Regions from separate parts of the Homo sapiens genome. Here regions 1 and 2 are each linked to region 3. Evidence: fine-mapped expression QTL. A gene starts in region 3. Each other region holds a variant in brackets. All regions are shown on one strand. Distances are from middle to middle.

What was found.
Region 1: its variant is fine-mapped to the expression of DCAF6 in fibroblasts (GTEx, PIP above 0.99).
Region 2: its variant is fine-mapped to the expression of DCAF6 in whole blood (TOPMed, PIP above 0.99).

Annotation. Positions count from the first base shown.
Region 1 is chr1:167,788,672-167,796,855 of GRCh38, reverse strand. MPZL1 (myelin protein zero like 1) reads right to left here. Exons shown (of 6, transcript NM_003953.6): 6 at 4,937-8,184. Among named protein-coding and RNA genes, the nearest start is that of MPZL1, 71 kb to the right of the region's middle. RefSeq lists a silencer at 4,125-4,273. The variant C/G (reference allele first, on the strand shown) is at 4,643.
Region 2 is chr1:167,859,980-167,868,163 of GRCh38, reverse strand. It overlaps ADCY10 (adenylate cyclase 10), which reads left to right. Exons shown (of 33, transcript NM_018417.6): 15 at 7,101-7,293. It also overlaps a transcript of DCAF6 not described here. Among named protein-coding and RNA genes, the nearest start is that of ADCY10, 50 kb to the left of the region's middle. RefSeq lists enhancers at 5,789-6,306, 6,307-6,823. The variant G/A (reference allele first, on the strand shown) is at 3,380.
Region 3 is chr1:167,932,977-167,941,160 of GRCh38, reverse strand. DCAF6 (DDB1 and CUL4 associated factor 6) reads right to left here and starts at 4,478. Exons shown (of 22, transcript NM_001198956.2): 1 at 4,153-4,478. The coding sequence starts at 4,249. MPC2 (mitochondrial pyruvate carrier 2) reads left to right here and starts at 4,089. Exons shown (of 6, transcript NM_001143674.4): 1 at 4,089-4,222; 2 at 5,263-5,428. The coding sequence starts at 5,320. RefSeq lists silencers at 4,073-4,312, 4,343-4,412, 5,013-5,182 and enhancers at 4,593-4,902, 5,353-5,462.

The sequences.
Region 1 (8,184 bases), 140 kb after region 3:
AGACGGAGTCTCGCTTGTTGCCCAGGCTGGAGTACAATGGCACGATCTCAGCTCACTGCAACCTCCACCTCCTGGGTTCAAGTGATTCTCCCCTTCTCCCCGCTCAGCCTCCCGAGTAGCTGGGACTACAGGAGCATGCCACCGCCCCCGGCTAATTTTTTGTATTTTTAGTAGAGATGGGGTTTCACCATGTTGACCAGGCTGGTCTTTAACTCCTGACCTCAAGTGATCCGCCTGCCTCGGCCTCCCAAATTGTTGGGATTACAGGCATGAGCCACTGCACCCGGCCAAATGTTCCACATTCCTATGAATCTATTGTACCTTCTAAGAGATTCCCTACAAAATATATTTAAAAGTTCTTTCTTTTAAAAGAAACTTTGTAATTTAAAAAATAATTCTATTCAAAGGCAGAGAAAGAACCAACAATGTACTCTAGTATTGAAATTCAGTTTCCTTGGAGTCCTTATCACAGAATGAGAAACCTCAGGCCTTAAGATGGTTTTTAGCTGTTCTATCCCCCGCTCCCATAGCAGAGCAGTGACTCAGGTATAAATACCTGAAATCATTTAATGCCCTGAAGGGCAAAGTAACCAGAATTTTGTCAGCCCCACAGCACGGAGGGCAAGGCTTGAAAGCAAATCTGCACCACATCCTCTTCACAGAGGTAGGGAGATTTTAAAAGACAAACAAACAAACAAACCCAGCCCTTCCTTATATTCTGCAACACTAAAGGCCAGCTCCACAAAGGCCACAGTGAAGAAATGGATGGACAAACAAATCCAAAAGCCTGAGCCAAGAAGGGACAATAGCTTCACATCCTGTTTGCAGGAGGAAATGGAAGCTGGAAGCAGCAGTTCCCTACGGACCCCTTTGGGCTTTACGTCTATGTTTTCTTCTTTGCAAACACAGCCAGGTCTCCCGTGGATTCTAGAGCTCCCTCCTGCCTTCCACTCCCAGTTGTTTTTCTAACAACCCAAGACTCAGTCAAACTTGAGAGCAGCCAGTGTGCTCTGTGGCCAGCTCCTGATGGCTTTAGGAAGGATGTGAGGAGGGCAGGGGAGCTTGTGAGCCACTTTCATCGCTCTCAGATATTAGATCCCATTTCCAAGGCCAAGGACGTGACTGATTCTGTGTTGCTTCTCTGAGCCTGCAAATTATTTGGCTTTTCTTCCTTAATAGCTCATGAAGGCAAATGACAATTACAGCACTACTTGTAATAGCCAATAACAAAACAACTGGAAACAACCTATCCAGAAGATCAGAAATGGTTTAAAATGCAAAGGCTGGCTGCGGTGGCTTATGCCTGTAATCCCAGCACTTTGGGAGACCGAGGTGGGCGGATCACCTTAAGTTGGGAGTTTGAGACCAGCCTGACCAACATGGAGAAACCCTGTCTCTACTAAAAATACCAAATTAGCAGGGCATGGTGACGCATGCCTGTAATCCCAGCTTGGGAGGCTGAGGCAGGAGAATCGCTTGAACTTGGGAGGTGGAGGTTGTGGTGAGCTGAGATCACGCCATTGCACTCCAGCCTGGGCAACAAGAGTGAAACTCTGTTTAAAATAGAAAGAAAAAAAGAAATGGTTTAAAATATTCCGGCGCATCTACAAAAGACAAAGTCCTGCAGGTGCTATTATCTAATGACCTAGTTCTTCATGCTGAAACTTCTCTGCCATAATGCTAAGGGAAGAAAGCAAACTGCAGAGCACCATGATCCCATTTTGGGTTTAAAAATAGGCAAAAAAAAAAAAAAAAAAAAAACTTTACCAGAACTATGTTTGGATCCTGACTGGAAGAAACCACTTGTAAAATGCCATTTTTTAAGACAAGGGAAACTTGAATATTAACTGGGTAATAATATATAAAACCAAGGATTTTGTTTGTAAAAAATGTGTTTTAGGACAGGTTTTTGTTAAATGTGACAAGATATTGTGATTATGTAAGAAAATGTCCACATTTTTAAAAGATGCACAGTGAAGAATGTAGGGGTGCACTTACATGATTTTGGGATTTGTTTTAAAATAATTCAGAAAAGAGGAAAAAAGAAAAAAGGGGCTGGATAAAATAAGTATTGAAGATAATAAGTGTATGCAGGTTGATTTTACTATTCTCTCTTCTTTTGTATATGTTTACATTTTTCTTTTTTTGCCATCTCACCAATTTAATAAAAAGCAGAAAATTCAATCAATCATCAGTCAATCTTTTCATTTCCAAAAGGATCAAATAACCTATGGGGCATTAATAGGATCTATTCTTTTAATGTCTTCAAGGAACAACCAGAACGTTTTAAGCAATTTTCAGTATGATGATACAAATAATTGAAACAATTATCTTTCAAGTTTCCTGTCTAACTGGGTATTTCAAACAAAAATGCTAATATTGCTGAAGTGAGTTGATACATGCTCTGAAATCCCCACATCACTTGACACCTCTGGGAAATTTAAGTGGCCTTCATATTTCAAGCTCATTAATACCAGTGGAAATCATACCTGCAATAAGAGAGATGAACTTTCAGCACATAGGAAGCTGCCTTTCCATCACTGATGAACAGGGTGTAACAGAAAGGTGACTCCAGGCTGTATGTGAGTCGTAATTCCTGTCATGTAGTTTTGTTACACTCAGCCAGTCATATACTTTTATTTTCACCTCTTTTGGGCAACAATAGGAATTTGTGAAATGGTTTTTGTGGAGTCAAGAGTAAGTCTGTGGTTGGCATTATGAATCTCTGATGCCATGGCCAGAATCTCTGCCTACCTACTTTCTCTATCTAAATCAGGACACATCTATTATTGTATCACTGGAAAAAACTGAGACAGATCATAGAGCTGAACATAATCCAAGATACACATAAAGCTATGAGTAAAGTTAATGTACAAAGTGTATATGGAGTGTACAATCTGTGTACAGTGGTAGAAAGTGACCCACAAATTTGGCTAGGACCTAGAGAATAGCAAAAGCAAAGAGACAAATACAATCAGTGACAAGTCAGTGCACATGACTAGTTTGAAACAAAATATTCATAAGAAACAGTTTTCCTGGTGTATTACTTGTTTTCACGCTGCTATAAAAGATACCTGGGACTGAAGGCCAGGTGTGGTGGCTCACGCCTGTAATCCCAGCACTTTGGGAGGCCAAGGCGGGCAGATCACCTGAGGTCAGGAGTTCGAGACCAGCCTGGCCAACATGGTGAAACCCTATCTCCGCTACAATACAAAAAAAAATTAGCCGGGAATGGTGGCGCATGCCTGTAATCCCAGCTACCCAGGAGGCTGAGGCAGGGGAATCGCTTGAACCCAGGAGGTGGAGGTTGCAGTGAGCCGAGATCGTGCTACTACACTCCAGCCTGGGCGACAGAGTGAGACTCCATCTCAAAAAACAAACAAACAAACAAAAAACAAACAAAAACAAAACCCCAAGACTGGGTAATTTATGAAGAAAAGAGGTTTAATTGGCTCACCGTTCTGCAGGTTACACAGGAAGCATAGCGTCTTTGGCTTCTGGTGAGGCCCCAGAAAGCTTCCAAATATGGCGGAAGGCAAAGGGGTAGTGAGGCTTCTCATGAGGCGTCTCACGTGGCGGGAGGAGGAGCGAGAGAGCAGAGTGGGAGGGTGCTGCATACTTTTAAACAAACAGGTCCCATGAGAACTCACAATCACGAGAACAGTACCAAGGAGGACGGTGCTAAACCATTCATTAGAAATCTACCCACTGTGATCCAATCACCTCCCACCAGGCCTCACCTCCAATGCTGGGTATCACAATTCGACAGATTTAGGCTGCGACACAGATCTCAACCATATCATCTGGTATTAAATCCAGAGAGATATTTGTGCTGTGGGTCTTTATAACATTGAAAAATGTATGACAGGGAATAACGTTCTCAAAGCCATGCTGGCAGTAAAGTACAATAAGTAGCTAGTTTCCTAGGACTCTTTTTTATGACATACTTCAATGTAGGCTGATAGAATTATGTCAAAGGGGCTGGGCCTAGTGGCTCACACCGGTAATCCCAGCATTTTGGGAGACTGAGGCGGGCATCTCTACTAAAAATACAAAAAATTAGCCGGGTGTGGTGGCGCGTGCCTGTAATGCCAGCTACTGGGGAGGCTGAGGTGGGAGAATCGCTGGAACCTAGGAGGTGGAGGTTGCAGTGAGGCAAGATCATGCCACTGCACTCCAGCCTGGATGACAGAGCAAGACTGTCTCAAAAAAAAATTTTTTTCAAATTATATCAAAGGGTAATTTCATTAAAGTAATTCTACAAAAAAACAAAATATATTGAAATTGTTCATACAATATCTTGACTATGCAAGAGGAAAGTGCAGGGGAGAACCCGCCATAAAAGCAGATGGTTGGCTCCTACCACCAGCTCTACCAATACCACAGATGCCACTTTCCTCCCCGTGGCTGCTCCCTCGCCTTTCCTGCACAGTGGGAGGATGAAGTCAGTGGTTCCCCAGTCCAGTTAGCACAGGAACTACCCAGAGGGGTCAGAAGGGAGCCAACTGGGGTGAGAGAGTATCTGAGTTTCCTCTAAACACTGCTCAACTCAGCTCCCTCAGGGGTGGAAGCTGCTCTCATAAATAAAAAGTCCATCTTTGGTTGGCAAGGCCCCTATGTAGCTTGGAAACCAGAGCCCCAG[C/G]AGGTGGATGCCCTCCGACACTTAGTGCTGACTTGGAAGGAATTGCAGAGATGACAAAAATGTGATTCCATCACTCACTGCTGCCCTTGTGTGGTGAAGGAAGCATCCCTTTTCTTTTTGTCACATCACGCAAGATGGATGCTGTTCACATGTGAGAATTACTCCCAGGGGAGTTCCTGCCAGCTGTAACTCATCTTCTCCCACTCAAGAACGCATTAGGTTTTGCAAGCCCAAAGTTATGCAAGGCAGGGGCTCATTGTGAATCCATGGTAATTTATAAAATTACTAAGTCACTGCGAAGCCTCAATGTTTTATTAGTAACACATTATTTGTAACATAGTTCTCAACAAATTAAGTCACCACATTGTCTTCCAGACTGAGGTTAAAGCTCTCAGACATCTGTGCCTACCACCTAGACTACACTACCCTCTCAAGTTCCTAAGGGACTCTCTAACCAGCTCCTAAGGGACTGGGAGAAAACTGCAACTGCATTTCAGCACATTTATTTGAGTAAGGAAGCAGTTTGGTACTTCCTTTTGGTGTGAGAGGCCACAGGGCATAGTGGTTAGGAACAAGGCTGTGGATCAAACAGCGGCCCCAGGCCCAGCCCCTCTTCTCTGTTCCTTTATTAGCTAAGTGGCCCTGGGTAAGCCATATAATCTTTCAAACAATGGGATTAAGATTAGTACAATTACTGTTAACTCACAGAAATAATAGAGAAAGAAATGCAAAGTGCCTGGCTCACACCAAGTATTTGGTAACTACTAGTTACTTCCATTCATGTCACCTGTCACCTCCACCCTGTGGCAAGCTCCTTGAGGAGCTTTGTCTTGTTTTGTTTCCTTATGCTTAGCACAGTGCTTGGCACAGGATTGTTCTCAGTGTAGGTTGCTGAATGGATGAATGCTTCCACCTACTCATCCATCCACGTAACATGTATTGAGCAGCTAAGTGCCAGGTGCTGTTCCCTTTACTGCAGACGGAGCAGTGAACAAAACAGCAAGGTTCTGGTCTCTTGTTAACTATGTTCTAATGCGGGAGAACAGACAAGTGTGTACTGGGAAAGAGGGAGAGAAATAGAGTAACTAGAGCAGAACTGAGGGGGCCAGGAAGGCTGAGGCGGTGGGGTGGGGGGCTTGCTCTTTTATATATCACAGAAGGTCTCCCTGAGGAGGTAACATTTGAGCAGAGGCTTAAAGGAAGTCAGAGAGCAAACCACAGGAATATTGGCAGAAGGCATGCTTCAGGCCCAGGGAACAGCATGTGCAAAGGCCCAGAAGCAGGCACACGGACGGCATTTTTGAAGAAAAGAAGGCAGGTGTAGCTGGAATGATATGAGTGAAAGGCATATCTCTTTTTCTATTCTGGTCAAAATGAGCACACAACACAATTCAGAAATTGAAAAAGATGTATTAAAATATTCACAAAAATACAACTGAAGATCAAAAAATAATAATGAGCTTGATGGTTTTTCCCTAGCTGATATATTTCCATTGAAAAACTAGAGATAGTTTGAAATTTCAATCTCTAAGTAATGCCTTTTGAGTGCTCCCATACAGAATTAGCGCATAATTTTAAGACGACCCTGTTTGCCAGGACGAAGACATGGAGAGGGCAGATCTGCCCTTTAGGCAACCTTAGTTCGTTATCTGCAACCAGGAAAGGAGTGCTGAGGCACAGGGAAAAGGGGAGCCAAAAGGGCTGCAGGGGTGGGTGTGCAGGGCTTGGGAAGAGGTCCTGCCCTGAGAGGCTCATCTCAGTGTGAGCAGCTTCCTTCAGGGAAACCTGTCCTGGCAGAGCACCATGCTGGCAGCTGCCCTTGCCTGGGGGGAAGGTTGGTGAGAACTGGTGAGGATTCTCTGCCAGAATGCCAGGGCACTGACAGAGTTTGAGGTGTCTGGTTGGGCAGGAGGCCAAGAAGTCGGGCTGGGGAAGGGAGTGGTAAGGGAGGAACAGGCCTCCAGGTGTCATTCGAGTGAGTGGCCCCCACAGCACCAGCTTCACCAACACATGGTCCCGGCACCGCAAGAAGAAGTGAAGGCTCTTGCTCTCAGGGAGCTCCGAAATGTTTCATTTATTCACAGGAACTGTTGAGAAAGCAGTGAAAAAACAATGCCCCTTTTCTCTGTAAAAAACGACTGTAAGGAAACATGACACAGGCCTGTCTACAATGTGTGTCCTCTGTACCTCAAGCACAGCCCTGGTCAGCTATGTGGTTTTCATGGTGGCAAAGGCTCACCAGGAGTCTCAGCTTGAAGGATGGTGACAATCTCAACACCCTTCCCCTCCAAACATAAGAGGCCTTCCAAAGGCTCCTATAGTTTTCAAAATAGATGCCCAAAAAGTTTTAGGATGCAAGGCAGAGTTGACCACTTTGTGGAAATGTCTCAGGGCCAGCACTGTGTGTCACTCTCTTGGGCTGGGCCTATGAACATGGAAGGCAGCAGGGCAGGCGTTTTTTTCTCCATTCCACACAGAACACAGAGCAGACGCTGCCCAGCTTCAGACATGTGTGGTGACCAAACCTGATCCCTGTTGACTCACACAGATGTGGCATGTAAGGTGGAGCGTTACAAGAATAACAAAAATAGCTCCTCAAAAAACAAAAGGCTTCATGTATGCAACAGCATTAGTTTTGAAGCTCATATGCCCTTTATCTTACCACCTTGTGCACACCTCAAAATCTCAATCCTGTTTTATTCCCTTTGTGAATTCTGTTGGAACTCAGCCTTCAAACATCCCCAGAAGATGACAAGATGAGAAGAAAAAGCAGCAGCTCATAATGGACTCCAAACTACAGGGAGAAAAAGTAACATTGCCCCTCACTCCCACTCACCCCAAACACGTTCTGCAGACCATCTAGACAGTAATTCTTTCCATAACTGTGGGCTTTCGAACAATTTTAAAAGGGGGGAAATTTAAAAAAAAATTCAGAAAATGGGAGAAATGACAACATAAGTGTTGAATGATCTTCACCACACTTTCCATTCCCAGTAAAAAGTAAAAACTCATAGATTTTAAGTGCGGTGGGGAGTAGTGAATAGGAGAAAACAAGTTTTAGGGAAGGACAGCCAAACTGTCTAATCTAGGCTCTCATTAACCTCAACAGTCTTTGAGGCACCATGAAGCTGTTATAAAGCCATGACTGATGCTGCCTCTTGCTGGAAGCATGACTGACGCTTTATAAAGAAGGTGATTCTTGCCAGCTGCAGTGGTGCAACTATAGTTCGTTCCAGCTACTCGGGAGGCTGAGGAGGGAGAATCACTTGAGCCCAAGAGTTCAAGGCTAGTCTGGGCAACATAGTGAGACTCTACCTCAAAAAAAAAAAAAAAAGCGAAAGAAGGTGATTCTCTAGAGAGCGAGCTCTGGGAGATTGGAGAGCGGCAACATAATGATACCATTTCTGCCTACTTAGAAGGAAAGAAACTCCTCTCCTTTAGCTGTATGGTGACTGTTATTTCAAGCAGAAAGGACATCAGCAAAGAATAAAACCGATACTTTTTACTCTCCACGTTACAAAAGTTCTCAAGCAAAGCTTGGA
Region 2 (8,184 bases), 73 kb after region 3:
TGGTTTTTCCTGGAGTCTCTGGTACTGGCACATTTAGTTAATCATAGAAAGTCTGAAATACTGGTTCCGGAGAGAGTTTACGAACCTCCTCTTTTACTAAGGTATTTACTCTAGGATCTAGTCCTTTTTTATCGACGCCCAGAGATACGTGTACTTCTTTTTTTCTACCTTGGGTTTAAGGGATTTGTAATTACTAATTTCAAGGGGTTGCAGCTTCCACTCGTACAGGAGGGGCTGCCTTCTCCTTTTTGGAGCTAAACAGGGTCTTTTTCATCCTTTTTCTAAGTAGCCTAGATGACACAAGACCAGTAATTACACACATTTGCACATGAGCTTAATTCGTGGCAGATATACTTATTTCCTGCTGTGTAACTTTTTTTTTTTTCAGTTTAAAGAACCGCATCTTATTCTATGCCGATTGCTATTGATAGTGGCACAAGCATTAAATTTTAGTGTTACATGCTTGGGGATCCCTCTTTCTTCTGTCTTAGCTATTACTTTACTTGTGTCACCTAGAAAAGGACCAGTCCTTAATTTATTTTAAAAAACTGTGATCATTGGAGGCTTAAAATGGGTCATAACACACATCAGGTTGGTTATTTCCTAGGCTACATACCTTGGATAGAATAGCATTATACAAACAAGTTTCTTTTAGAGTCCTCGTACACTTATAATAACCATGAAATAATAGGACTGTAGCAATCTTTTGTCCTACCTCAGTGACTTGATGTATATACTGGGAACAGTTCTCAGTCTGAGGAAGGTCAGTTGAAGTCCTTACTGTACAAGTCCAAATTTTAAGGAAAATGAGTCCCGTGATGAGTTTTCTCATGCTTCGGCCGTGCGTGGACCAGTCAGCTTCCGGGTGTGACTGGAGCAGGGCTTTTTCTGAGTCACTTTGCAGAGGTTGGTGAAGCTGCTCCCATCCACGTACAGCTCCCAGTTTACTGATGTTTAAGGATGGTTTTGGAGGTTGGGCCCACTAGAATAAACTGAGTCCAACACTTCTACACAGTTATGTTTAACTGGGCTCTCTGATACCAGGAGCAAGGTGGCGGGGTTTAGGGTGTTGCAAACTTCAATGGTTATGTGGGGATTTTCACAGAGCAAGCTTTGGTATCTAGTTAGTCTAGCATTCATTAGCTAATGATGTCCTTTGGTACTGATTAAAGTCACCACAGCATGGGGGGGACTTTATGTTTAGGTTTTGCCTAAGAGTTAGCTTATCTGCTTCTTGTGCTAACAGGGCCGTTGCTGCCAGGGCCCTTAGATATGGGGGCCAGCCTTTGGAAACCCCATCTAGTTGTTTTGAGAGATAGGCCACTGGCCTTGGCCAGAGCCCTACAGTCTGGGTTAAAACTCCAACTGCCATTTTTTTTTTTTGAAGATAACCATTCTTTTTTTTTTTTTTTTAAGTGAACTTTCTTTATATCTGTGGACTAGACTGTCTAAGGCCACAAGATTAGAAGTTACTATAATACATGTTACACTGTTAACTTTTAGCAAACTTTACTTTTGTTGAAAACCTTGTAAGTTTGGGATTTCAATTATCCTTTGCTATGAGTAAGACCTTGTTTAGTCTAAATTAACTTAGAATTGGTATAGATGGCCCTTTTTTTTTTTTTTTTTTTTTGGCACATAGAGTGTGCACTTTCGTCAGGTCAGGTAGCCCCAGGGCTGGGGCCGACCTGAGTTTTTCTTTCAACTCATGAAAAGCTTGTTGCTGTTGTTTGTAATAGATATAATTTATCTAATTTACATTTTTATTAACATCACTCACTAAAATATTGACTTAAATTTTGTAGCTATTTGATTTCAAGCTTTAAATTGATCTGGTATTCCTCGTGGGACTCCAATTGCGTCTAAATGGACGTGAGAGTCGAAAGACCTATAAGGGGGCTTCTCTCGCTTTACGATGTCTTATTTTTCCTCCCTCTTGTTGATGAAATGCCAGGGTGAAAGGGATAGCCAACTGGACTAAAGTATAAGTGCCACTCCAGTTATTCGGCAGAGTGCCCAGTAAAGGTCCACCACAATACCACCACACATCCGCTTGGGGATGAACAAGGGCTGACTGATTGATAAGCTCTTGAAAATTCTTAAGCTCATTGCATCACTTCAGGTCTCCAAGGAATCCTAAGTTTCCTCTCTGTGGTGAGAGACATGAAGTGAACTTAGTGTTGGGAGACGGAGGCTGGATGGCCCTCGGGGGCTGACCCACAGGGATAGCAGAGAGAGTTTGGCATGACTTATTACTCCAGGCTGTAGAATCCTGGAAAAGAGCTACCATGCAGCCCACGCCTGGTGGACTGGAGGACCACTTTAGTGGAAGGGGGACAATGAGGGCCTCTGGCCTGCCATGTGCACAAGCATAACAACTGCTTTTGTTTAATGTGCAGATGGAATATTTGATCCATTTCAACCAGGCATTTGCATCTTGGTATGCTGTCTTAATTGCCAAAGTTTGTTTTAAGTCTTTAACTTCTATGATCCTCTAGTAAAATGAATGTTTCCTTTAGGACCTATTTTTATTAGTTTTTAGACCAAAGAAAGCTAAACACCATTTTATATTTAATAATACTTCTTGTATGATTTTTATACCAGATAAGCTAAATTTTACCTTTATATTAGTGTGTTATTAATGTTAAACTTAATTTTAATAAAACCTCATAGACATATTTATCCAATTTTTCATGTTTGACCATAAGGTAAGTTTTTACAGACTCTTTTTAACCTTTTATAATTTTTGTTAAAGAGCAGGTTGGTGCTTCAAGAAAAACCTGTTGCATTTTTACTTTAATGTCCAGTTCACAGAAAAACTGGATGATACCTTTTTATCTTTAGCTAATTAGTTTACACACAGAATTTTTTTTTACAATTAACATTTTAAAACTTGCTTAAACTTTCAAAACAATAATTTTTTTAACCTTTTAATGTAGGTAAAAATCCACATTCTTATGCCTCCTTCTAATCTTTTTACCAAAAGTATATTTTACTTTTCTTATGCACCTTGCACATAAACTGTTTCTTCAATAGTACTCAGGAGGCCTTATTACTTTCAAATTATACAATATTTTTTGCATAAATTTTTTATAACATCGTTTTCTATGACTTTCGCAGATAATTCTTTGACATGTCTCAACTTTCTGACTTATTACAAATATTTCTTTCTTTAAACAACAGTTAATTTATTTCAAGACAAGAATTTACCATATAACACTCTTTTTACATAAATTTTGCCTTCCCACAGCTCTTTTTTTTTTTTTTTCCTGTTAGCAAAGCAGCTGCTGCTACAGATTGAATGCATCTGGGCCATCCGTGGGTTACTGGGTTAAGGATTTTTGATAGGAAGGCCTCAGTGCTTTCGGGATACGCCCTT[G/A]TTTACACTAACAACAAAGTGGTATTAGAGTGTTACAGGGTTACGGAGAATACCTTTAATTATCAATTTTAGGTTTTAAATTTACCTTGGCTTTTAAAGGGAATAGGGTACACTATTTTTTTCTTAACTACTTGGATATTTCTCTCTATTTTTCTTTCTCTCTTTGACTTTCTGTCTCTCTCTCTCCCTCTCTCTCTCTTTGACTTTCCTTTTGCCTCTGTTTCTTCCTCTCTTTCTGCCTCTCTTAACTACTGTGGGGGCGAAGGGGGTCTAAAACCAGCTGTAATTGTCTACGTACAGAAACTGGTCTGTGTGCCTTGGCTTACAGGTTACCTTGTGCCATACATTTGAAACAAGGGACCTGTCTAGGCTTCCTTCTGATGGCCAACCCACCTCTAATGTTGGCCAGTCTATTTTACACAAAGTTCTAAGTTTTTCTAGTGTCATAGTAACACCGTAATCTCCCTTAAATCCTTTCTTGAAATTTTTCAACATAGTTTCTAGTAGGGTGGGCTTATTTGTGCCTGACCCATGTTTCTTCGAGACAAAACACCACTCTCACACCACATGCACACCACAAAACAAAGAACGGGTAAAAAGGGCACGCACACACTTTTGCAGTTTACACTAAACCAAAATCAAAACCAAAATCAGAGTATTCAGAAATCCAAGCCAGGTCAAAACCAAAACCAAAGTATCAAGCAATCTAAGTCAAGTCAAAAACAAAAACCAAAGTGCCGGAACAGGCACACCGTGGGTGATCAGATCAGGCCATGCTTCCACTCAAATGGAGTGGGAATGGAGTGGGCAAGTTCCCAAGACCAGTCCTGTCAAGTAATTCAAACCAAGTCAAAACCAAAACCAAGTGCTGATAAAGGCACGCCGTGGGTGATCAGGCCATGCTTCCACTCAAATGGAGTGGGCAAGTTCCAAAGACTAGTCTTACCAAGTTTTAGTTGTCCGGACTCCAAGTGCCAATTCCTTCCCGGTGTTCAGCCACTCTGTTGATCCTCCACGGGGGCCTGCCACACACTGCTCTGGCGAGGTGTCCCACCGGGGCAAATGCCTACCCAGGAGAGCTCTCAGGATCCGCGTCACTCTGGCTGGTTGGAGTCCCCAGCAGGGATGTTCCACAGGGCAGGCTAAAGCCGCCTAAGGAGCTGCCTCGACCATCTGTTAATCACCTTGCTTCCCGGTCAGGGAACCAAGAAATGTAGCAGGATGAGCCGCAGACAAAACCCCTCAGACACCGAGATAGTGAAGGGAGTGGCTTTAATCAGCTGGGAGAATCGGCAGGCTAGCGTCTCAAAATCCGAGCTCGTCTGATGCTCAACTTCTGTCCCTTTTAAGGGCTCACAACTCTAAGGGGGTCCGCATGAGAGGGTCGTGATCGATTGAGTAAGCCAGGGGGTACGTGACAGGGGCTGTGAGCACCGGTGGTCACAGTGAAACAGAACAGAACGAGAGATTTCACAATGTCCTTCCATACAATGCCCTTCCATACAATGTCTGGAATCTATAGATAACAACAGTTGCTAGGTCAGGGGTCGAATTTTAACTACCGAGCTTAGGTCAGGCAGGCCCAGGCCTGGTTTCGGGTCTGGTTCCTAGGCGCCGGGCTATCTGCCTTTAATTTCACTTTTCTTTCCTTTTCTGAGTATAAAACAATATGAGAGGGTCTGTCTCTTCCCTCAACAGGGAATCACTAGTTCAAACCATTTAGTCCTAAGACTGGAGATAGAGAATAAGAGGTCTTTGGATTTTTCCCTGGAAGACAGATCTAATATACTTGTCTCATGTTGTTTATTTATTTTCATATAAGGAATATTATGAGGGCTATCTTTGGGACAATCCATTCTACTTCCTCATGGAAGTAGATAGTATGGTATTCAATAACAGTGGTGATGACCAGGACAATAATGATGGTGACTCATATCCCTTCCCCACCTAACCTAAACAGTGTGAGGGGAAAATGCTTGTTAATCTTATAATATTCTTAGCTGTATCTCTATCCCACATTAAAGTTAGGCCTGAGAAAGGCCAGTTTTAAAATATCTTTATCATTGCTGAAGGGATAATTCACAACAGTCAGAAGACATTTGTTTATTCATGTATTCAATCATTAATTGAATTCCTACTATGTTCAGGAACTACTAAGTGCTGTATTCACTAGCCGGGGCCTCTGTAAAAAAGTACTACAAATGGATGGCTTACAACAGAAATTTGTCTCATAGTTCTCAGGGGTAGGAGTCTGAGATCAAGGCATCTTTTCTTCTCTGGACCATGAGGAAGAATCTGTTTCATGCCCACCTGCTAGCTTCTGGTGGTTGCTGGCCATCTTTGGTGTTCCAAAGATGGCTTGTAGAAGCGTCACCCTAATCTCTGCCTTCATGTCACATGGCATTCTCCCTGTGTGTTGTTTGTGTCCAAATTTCTCCTTTTTATAAGGGCATCAGTTTTATTGGATTAGAGGCCTACCCTACTCTAGCATGATCTCATCTTAACTAATTGTATCTGCAACGACTCTCTTTTCAAATAAGGTCACACTTTGAGGCCCTAGAGGCTAAGAATTTAACATATGAATTGTGGGGACATGTGTCAACAAGTGCCAAAGCCCTGAATATCAATAAAGTCTGCTCTCTGCCCTCAAGGAGCTCTCACAGAAGAGGAGGAGAGAGATAATGTGTTAGTCGTTTTCACGCTGCTATAAAGAACTACCTGAGACTGGGTAATTTATAAAGAAAAGAGGTTTCATTGACTCACAGTTCCACATGGCTAGGGAGGCCTCAGGAAAATTATAATCATGACAGAAGGCAAAGGGGAAGCAAGGCATGTCTTACATGGTGGCAGGAGAGAGCGAGCAAGGGAGGAAGTGCCAAACTTTTAAACCATCAAATCTCATGAGAACTCCCTCACTATCATGAGAACAGCATGGGGGGAACCGCCCTCATGATCCAATCACTTCCCAACAGGTCTCTCCCCTGACACTCGGGGGTTGCAATACGGGATGAGATTTGGGTGAGGACACAGAGCCAAACCATATCAGATAGCATTAAAAGTTGAATATAGTGAGGGCAACGATAGAGTCATGCAATAGAGAATTGTGGAAGTTCAGAGAAGAAAGGGTATGTAGTCAACCTTAGGACATTGATGACAGTTTCCAGGAGGCTACACCTGAGCTGAGACTTGAGATGAACCTCAAATGAGGGGCAATGAGAAGCCATAGCACTCTGGGCTGAGGAGACAGCATAAGCAAAGGCATGGAGAGGAGAAATAGCTCTGGGTGTGCAGGGAACTCTCACCTGCTTGCTGTTGGTGAAGGGTAGATTGCTAGGCAGAGAGTGGCAAGAAAGGATAGAATGAGGCTTTGGAAAGTCTTGTGTGTCACATAAAGGAGGCCTGGGTTCATGCCGTTAGGCAATGGGAGCTCCCAGTCAGAGGGTCATGACCTGGATGGGGGTAGTGGCTTGCTATTGTGGTAGTATAGGGTGGCAGTAGGACTAGAAAGGAGAGAATTAGCTAGGTTAAATTAATCAGGGCTTAGGAACAGGAGAAGAGGGAGTATATCAGAAGCAGCAATAAAGAACCATTGCGAGATAGCTTGGAAAATCTCCATCATTATAGCTGAATATGAGAAGACAGAGCTTTCCTTCAACCTCTATTATTTTCAAAAATATATATTTAAAAACTCTCTTCTGTTTCTTGATTTTCTCACAAACAGGATTATTGCCATTTCATTGAATAAGATCAGCTTCCATCAAACTTTCTATACCATCCAGATGTTCATGGCCAATGTCCTAGGCCTAGACACTTGTAAACATTATAAAGAACGACAGACCAACCTTCGAAATAAAGTCATGACACTGTTGGATGAAAAGTTCTACTGTCTTCTTAATGACATTTTCCATGTTCAGGTAACTAGCTAGTATTATACTTCTGCACAAATAGCCATGGGCAGGCACAGCAACTCCTCTCTGGTGCATTGTGACTTAGCATCTCTTTGGTCTGTATATCTGCAGTATCCAGATGGTGAGTAAATGGCTCCCAATCCTCTCTGGATGTGCATCAACATTCTTGACATATTAGAGGTATCTTGAAATATCATACTCAAGAAAATCCAAATGGCCATCTGCTGACTAATTTTTTTCTTACCTTTCTATCATAGCTATACTAGCTACTCTGGGACACAAAGTCACTCTGTTCCTACAAGTGATGCCAGTGCAGACTGTGCCCTGTCTTTTCCTGAATTATCTAACACAGGGGTCCTCAACCCCTGGTACTAGTTCATGGCCTGTTAGAAACCAGACCACACAGCAGGAGGCAACCAGTGGGTGAGCAAGTGAAGCTTCATCTCTATTTATAGCCACTCCCCATTGCTCACATTACCACCTAAGCTCCTCCTCTTGTCAGATCAGCAGCAGCATTAGATTCTCATAGGAGCCTGAACCCTATTGTGAACTGTGCATGCAAGGGACCTAGGTTGCATGCTCCTTATGAGAATCTAATGCCTGATGATCTGTCACTGGCTTCCATCACCCTCAGATGGGACCATCTAGTTGCAAGGAAACAAGCTCAGGGCTCCCACTGATTCTATCTACATTATGGTGAGTTGTATAATTATTTCATTATATATTACAATGTAATAATAGAAGCAAAGTGCACAATAAATGTAATGCACCTGAATCATCCTAAAATCATCCCCTCTGCCGCAGTTCATGAAAAAATTGTTTTCCACAAAACTAGTCCCTGGTGCCAAAAAGGTTGGGACCACTTATCTAACACATGAGGATTTTAAGACACAGAAT
Region 3 (8,184 bases):
TACAAATATTTCACTAACTTTTCCCCAATGGCTAAAAAAAGAGGCAAAAGTCAGAAGTTACTAATCTTCATATAATAAATACACTGTAACTTGGCAACATATTATGAAGAACCTGGTAATCTAGAATGCAGATGTATTCAAGATGCACTAAAGAGTAATCGACACGCAAAATTATCCATTTCAGTACATACTGACTCTAATGATATTCAAAGGACACTGACTTCATAAACTCCTTACAAAAAGATGAGATTCAATCTCCACTAAAAAATTGTCACTGGCTGCCTAATCATAATTTACACATTTTATACATTATAATAAATAACTCCCTTGAGAAGTACCTTAAAATTACTTTTTTATCAATTACTATCTTTTAATTTAGAAGGGTTAGAAAGTTGTAGGAGTGTCTGTCCAAAAGGAAAGAAATATGAGTAGAAACAAGCAATGTATTGAAATAAGTTTATTTTATTAACAATGTTTATCTTTACAAAACCGTATATATATGGGATAATAAAATCTGTGTGGCTAATAAATCACTGATTTCCAAAAGCACTACTCTACACCTAGTATACAGTAATTTGAGAAACTATTACATTTAAACATTTAAACCTACAGGTATCTCTGACTTTGATAATTATTCTTTAAAAAAAAAAAAAATTCCAGGAGGCTGAGGTGGGAGGATGGCCTTGAGCCCAGGACGTGGAGGCTGCAGTGAGCCATGAGGGTGCCACTGCACACCAGCCTGGGAGACAGAGCAAAACCCTGCCTCACCCTGCCCCCCGCCTCCCACCAAAAAAAAGAATCCTACATTGAAATTTAGATAGGGCTCACAAAGATTAAAATCCCTGGCCTATCCTCTAAATCCATGCTAGTCTAAAACAACACTCTGTTGGCCCAGGTGAATCTTGTGGATTTGGGAGCTCTAAGTAAACATATCTTTTAATCATAAATAACATCTGGGAAATTATTCATCTTCATTCCCACAACATAATAGGAAGTTTTCTGAAGTATAATTTTCTTTGATGGGAAGAAAGGAGATAATTAATCAGTTTAAGTAAAATCAATTACAAAGCTTGAATATTAACATTGAAAGGGCACATGCTATGGTGAAATAACTGGAAATGTAAAGGCTACAAGAAAAATTTATCTATTTGTTCTATCCCAATTTTACTATTTAGCAGTAATTCACTGCTAAAAAATCTGTAGAAATACAAATAATGAAAATGTATCAGAAAAATACTTAAATCTACAACCCTGTAGATAGACAATCGTAATGTTTAAATATTGAAGTCTTTTAAAAAAGGAATCTATTTCCTTAGGAAAATCCTAACTTGGAATTTGACTTTTAAAAGGAAGGCTTTATAAGTGTACCATACTTTATTTATTTATTTATTTATTTATGACGCAGAGTTTCCCTCTGTCGCCCAGGCTGGAGTGCAGTGGCACAATCTTGGCTCACTGCAACCTCCACTTCCCAAGTTCAAGCTATTCTCCTGCCTCAGCCTCCCAAGGAGCTGAGACTACAGGCGTACGCCACCACTCCCGGCTAATTTTTGTATTTTTAGTAAAGACCAGGGTTTCACCATGTTGGCCAGGCCGGTCTCAAACTCCTGACCTCAAGTGATCACCCACCTTGGCCTCCCAAAGTGCTGGGATTCCAGGCGTAAGCCACCGCGCCCGGCCAAGAGTACTGTACTTTAAAAAGTCATTTTATCTAATAATAAAAATAAAATTAATAATAATGATAAAGTCATTTTATCGCCACACACAAAAAAAGATGGTAATTATGTGACATGATGGATATGTTAATTAACTTGATTGTATATGAAGTTATCAAGTCCTACACCTTAAATATAACAATTTTTAATTGTCAATTATACCCCAATAAAACTGGGAGGGAAAGTCATTTTTTAAAAAAAACCATCACTAATTCAAACATTACCAATGTGGATTTTGCTGCTTCCTGAATGCAAAGCCAGGATTAGCACTGTAGTATAGAAGAGCTGAATAACAGTGTAAAGGTCTACTAAGGGTAAAGGCCAATAAATTAGTTCTTTGCAAACATTTTCAAGTTTCGATACTTTCAAAAAGTATTTTCAAGTACTTAGAAAACCACTTTTAAAGGAAGTCATTCCAAAAATGTCCTATTTTAAGAGTATATATTATCATATCTAAAATATTATTTAAGATAAAGAACTCCCTGTATGTATACATACACATTTGAAAAACTGTAATTCAGGCTTTCTAATATAGTCAGTGAACCCTTCAATTCCCCTAGACCCAATACACAAATTCCATTTCCATTAGGGAGTTGGAGTAGGAGGGGGAAAAGCAGGTATATGGTTTTGTTATATTTTAATTAACTCGTTTGTAGATATAGCTGAAGTAACTGAACCAAAAGAAAACACTAAAATATAGAACTATATACAAGTACTTAAACTGTCCAACTGAGATAAAGGACCAAATTATAAATGTATCCATGCAAAACAATGTTAACGTTTGTTTTATTAAGCTAAAATTAAGTTCTTTCTCCGCAAATAAATTCTAAAAGAAATACTGCACACTTTTTTTGGTAAATAGTTTTAAAAACCAGACTCCAGCTATGTTCAATTTTAAAATGATTAATCACCACTCTAGGTACTTATCCTACAACAAATGCACAGAAGCTTGTAGAATGATGTTCATTAAAATGCTGTAAGGGCGAACGTCTACTTAAAGAAGAAAGGTTGAGTACCCTATGGTACTTCATAATGTTACCTACTATGTAATAATTTAAAAGACAGAATCAATCTATTTTTACTGCCATGGAAAGATCTCCAAAATGTGGAGAAGTGAAAACAATGTTTACAATATGACACCATGCACTCAGGTGTCTCTCTCATACACACACAAACACACACACACCCCAGCATTTGTACATGTACATATGTACTTGTAAGAATGCAAACAAAAAGGTCTGGAAGAATATTCAGAAAACAGAAAATATTATTTCTAAGGGTGGCGGAGTGAAATTGAATGGGAGGGATCAAAGGGATTTTTGCTTCATTTTTATTGAGTTTTTATAAACAAAATGTATTCGTATTTTACTTGAGACACTAAAAAGAATTAAAAAATTGCATGCTAACTTTTCTTAAATAATTTACAAACCAGAACTGTTGGTTGTAATGAGATTTCATTTTCTTCTCTTTACTTGAAATCAAAAACAAATGAGAGCAACAAACACTTTTTAACTAGCAAGTGGCAAAACTGGAAAGAAAAAAATTTTATGATGTTGTTTGCCGTATCTCCAAATAGAAAGAAAGAGTAATGAAGAGTATACAGGAAGAAACAAAAAAGACCTTTACTAAGTACGTCCATTTTTAAGAAACCAAACTTTTTAGTTGACTCGGGCGTGACCTAGAATCCTCAAAAAAAAAATGTTATGCAAAACGAAAAAAGTGGAATACTGTTCCCCCAAGTACTGAAGGTTGTTTTTAGAAAGCTTAACTACGAAACTGTAAATGCCAAGTGTGTTTTCCAGGGGTGGGAAGAGGAACGTGAAACCCTACACCACCTTTAAGCGGTCAAAACGAACTGAAGAGCAGAGTGGAACTGGGAGAGCGCGCGGGGGTGGGGAGAGCTCAGCTATCACTTTTAGGTTTTGGCTCAGCGCCGCAAAAACAGTTTACACGGATTCTGTCTGGAGCGTGAAGTCCCTGAGGGTGGTCAACGCGTCGCAGCCGACACCTAAACCCTCTGGAGATTGAAGGAGAGGGTGGGCAACAACTTAGGTTCTTCGGCTGAGCGGGGAAAGCGCGCTGGAAAAGAGCAAAAGAGCTAACTTTTGCTCTAAACGCGGCAGCTCCTGGAGGTTCCGCAAGTCTCCCGAGTCCCAACCCATCAGCGACCCCAACACCTTTACAAGCCAGTACCTTCTGCCCACGGCCCGGCCCTCCGAGAAAAACCCAGCAAGGGCGGCGGCTGGCAGCATGCACAGGGGGCTTGACTGGGGGAGGCACCGGCACGGAATTCGGCAACCAAGGCCCCACCCAACACCCCAGAGTCTCCGGGCGCCCCCACCGAGACGCCGTCCCACCTCCAACAGACCCGGCAGCGTGCCCCCTCCCCCACTCTAGGCGGCGACCTCAGCGCCTCCGCCCCGGGGCCCCCGCTCACCCAGGTAGCGACTCCGCAGCCGGGACGGGTCCTCCAGCCCGAGGGACCTTTTCCTCACGTCCCACAACAGGTGTGGGTAGGAGCCACCCCGAGACATGGCTCTGCCTGAGCCGGGTGGGAGGGGAGACCACCGCGTGGGGGAGGGGAGGAGGGGGAGGGGACACCCGTTTCAACACCCGAGCCGCACCGGCACCATCCGCGCGCCGGGCCTCCAGGGCGCAGCGTTAGATGGCGGTGGCAGCAGCGGCGCCTGGGCCCCTGAAGCCCGGCCGCACCCGGGCCGGAGCTCGCCTCATACTCTCCTTCTTAGACTAACCAGAACATCCAAAGATCAGCAACAGTCTCCTCCCTCAGCCCCCCTCCAACAGGAGGAGGCGGAGGCGGAGGCGATGGCGACTCCTCCCTCTCCTCGTCCTGGATACCCTCCCCGCCAACCCTTTCTCGCGAGATGACGACCACCCTGGGGACTGAGGCTGGTGTGTGCTGCGGCTGCCCTCACCCTGGAAGAATGCATTCGGGCCACTCTAACCAGATCCTTAAGTCGCTAGGGATAAAAGACGAGTAGAGAGAGAAGCTACTCAATTCTGTAGTCTCTCGCTCACGAGTCTCCAGTGAAAAGAAGCAAGAGAATTGTGCGGCATCATCTTTAGGCACTGAAGGCCCAAAAACCCATTTTAACTACGGGCCTGCTTAATCAAAGTGAAAGGGCAGTAGAACCAGCGCAGCTTCACTTTCCCTTCTCCAACATGGCCTCGAGGGCATGGGGAGAAGGAGGAGGTTTCCGCTCGACCCCGCCCGCGCCTCGGGGCGGGCCAATCATGGCGGGCAGCTCGGCCTGCGCAAGCGCGCTGCCAGCAGGGCGCAGCGCAGACTTGGTGAGGTGATTATTTTGGCACCTGTTGCCATGGCTCCTCCCTCTCTCCTGCCGGGGGCCGGAGGCGGACCGGGGGCTGGCAGTCGGCAGCCTCCGCCCCCTCAACCTTCGCGGGGCGCGGGCCGCAGCTTTTCGGTTCACAGCGGGCAGGGAAAGCCGCGGGAAGGGTACTCCAGGCGAGAGGCGGACGCGAGTCGTCGTGGCAGGAAAAGTGACTAGCTCCCCTTCGTTGTCAGCCAGGGACGAGAACACAGCCACGCTCCCACCCGGCTGCCAACGATCCCTCGGCGGCGATGTCGGCCGCCGGTGCCCGAGGCCTGCGGGCCACCTACCACCGGCTCCTCGATAAAGTGGAGCTGATGCTGCCCGAGAAATTGAGGCCGTTGTACAACCATCCAGCAGGTAATGGACCCTGAATGGCTCCTTATCGAGACCTTCCTTCTCGCTTCCTCTAAAATGGACCTTTTAGAGGCCCTCTGACAACTGCCTCTAGAGGCATCCACAGCCCCAATCCCTTCCCTTCAAGTGAAGCCGTCTACTCTCCTAGCCTGTGCATTTCACCCTCTCTCCTGCAACATCTCTTCCTAAGCCAACGTATCTCAAGTCAGCTCCCTTCCCCACCTATGTGACATCCGCTCCCTTACGCACGACTCCAACCCAAACCTGATCTCCAGATTTGAGCCTTCTCAACTTCTGCGGCCACCAAACTGTCTGGGGCCACCATGAAACACTCATTCTCTTTCTCTTTTCGAATTGTGGCATATTAACCCACTCTAGGCAGAGCTGGATGGGTGGTTTGTCGCACTGTAGGGTTTGGAGTAAAGGTCACTTTCTTCAGCTGCTGCTGGCAGAGGCCTGCAGACTGAGCCCTCCCCCAAACTGCATGCTTTACTTCATCCAGGCTTGAGTCAGTGTCATTTCTCATCCCATAGGTCCAGTGTGTTTTTTTAAGTCTATCCTTATTTATGAAATTGTTGAACAAGCTCTACCCAGAGCTTTTTGTGTGGACAGACCTGGATATCATTCTCTTCTACCACTTATAGTTGTGACCTTGAGCAAAAGCCTAGATCTCTGTTTGTGTAATACGCGGTCTATGAGAATGACAGATAACATATGTGCTTGACTCTTTGTAAATGCTCAGTAAACGTTACATCTCTCTTTGCCTACTGGAAAACTGTGTTCTTGTGGTTGAAAAAAAAAACTGTAAGAAACTGAAAGATTCCAATCCCTTTATTAAAGATCTAGAATTCTGTTACCTCTTCTATAAAGTGAGTTGTAATAATACTTATTTGCTAGGGGCTAACATCAGATATATTCTGAGGTCTGTTTCAAGCCTAAGACTTGGCAAACTAGAAAATGTGTTGTAAATTGAAAGACTGAAGTGCTACCCGAAAAGTGGCTTTTATTCTCCTACATAGTTAAAATCTGTATTCTGTAGTTGGTATCATTAGGAAAGTTGTCTAGTTCCCCCATTATCTGATTATGAACCAGCTCTCTGGAGTCTGAACTGGTTACTAAATCTGATTTCCAGTTTGATAATGGAATGAATTGAACATCTGGATTATACTCTAACCCTTAATATTATTTACTGCAACATTGAACCCATTATAAAACTGATCATTAAGGACAGTTTGTTACTGATTTAAAAAGTTTTTGTTTATTTGCCTTTTAGTTCTTTTAACATTCAATTTTTTTGGAATTATGCTGTGTTTTGTGGCAAAGATTTTCGGGAAGGAGGGTTGAGCTATGCTTTTTGTAATAATCTGGGCTTTACAGAGTCAACTGAATGTGAAGTCAACCCTGACCTTCATAAGCTTTGTGTTTTAGCTGTAGGATAAGGGCATGACAGAGTAAGAGTAATTTTAAACTACTTAAAATAATACAAAATTGGAGGGTAGTCTTACCTTGATCCTTTCCAAGCCTTTAGTTTTTAGCCACCTGTAATTACTGCTTAAAATACTACTCAGCTTTCAGAATGAAGAGGGATTACCTTTCACTTGCAGGATGTGCATTTCACCTGAAAATCCTTGGATTCGTTCAGTTATTTTAACCCCCTTTTTCAGTGTAGTAAAAGGAGCTAGGCTTTGAAGGGAAATAGACCTACGTTTCAGTCTTGGCTGTGTGACCTTGACCCTAAATTCCTGCCTTAGTTATCTCATCTATAAAATGGGAGTAATTGTAATCATTTCAGGATTGTTGTGAAAATCAGATGATCTAATGTCTCTAAAACATGTAGCACAGCGTTTGCACTTAGACTCTCAATAACTGTCAGTTCTAAAATTTGAGCAACATACAGAGTAAGGATATCTATTACAGCAGAATTATTTATGATCGACAAGTTGGAGGCACACCAGTGTAGAAATGGAGGAGCTTGAAAAATACGTTGACTGATGAGTATTGAATAAAATCTAAGGAAACACTGATTATTGTCTTAAGAGTTTATCCAGAGTGAATATTCAAGGATTTTGCATACTATTTTGCCTAACAGTATTTGTTATTGAATTGTCATTGAAACATTTTTCTAGATTCACCTACAAGGAGTTTATTAAATGATATGAAATGCTACAATATTAACAGTTGGAAATCATACATTGCTGATTCTAGATTTTTGAGATTTAATTTTATCACTGACACTGTATGTCTCGACAGGTAACAAGAATGTGTTTTTAGCCAGGCACGGTGGCTCACACCTGTAATCCCAGCACTTTGGGAGGCTGAGGTGGGTGGATCACCTGAGGTCAGGAGTTTGAGACCAGCCTGACCAACATGATGAAACCCTATCTCTACTAAAATACAAAAATTAGCCGGGTGTAGTGGCGGGTGCCAGTAATCTCAGCTACTTGGGAGGCTGAGGCGGGAGAATCACTTGAAACCAGGAGGTGGAGGTTGCAGTTAGCCAAGATCGTGCCATTGCACTCCAGCCTGGCAACAGAGCGAGGTTCTGTCTCAAAAAAAAAAAAAAAAACTAATGTGTTTTTATGTATAGATACATATTTTAGTTACAGTATTGCATCTCTGACCTGTGAGCCAGAATTTTGAGGCTCTCATTATCCATTTGCCTATGTGTTTTTGCTGGCATGTCATGATCTGCCACTGTAGAGAAGGAATAGAGTTCTAGCCAAATGTGTGTCCTGGTCAAGTTCCTCAACTCACAAAAA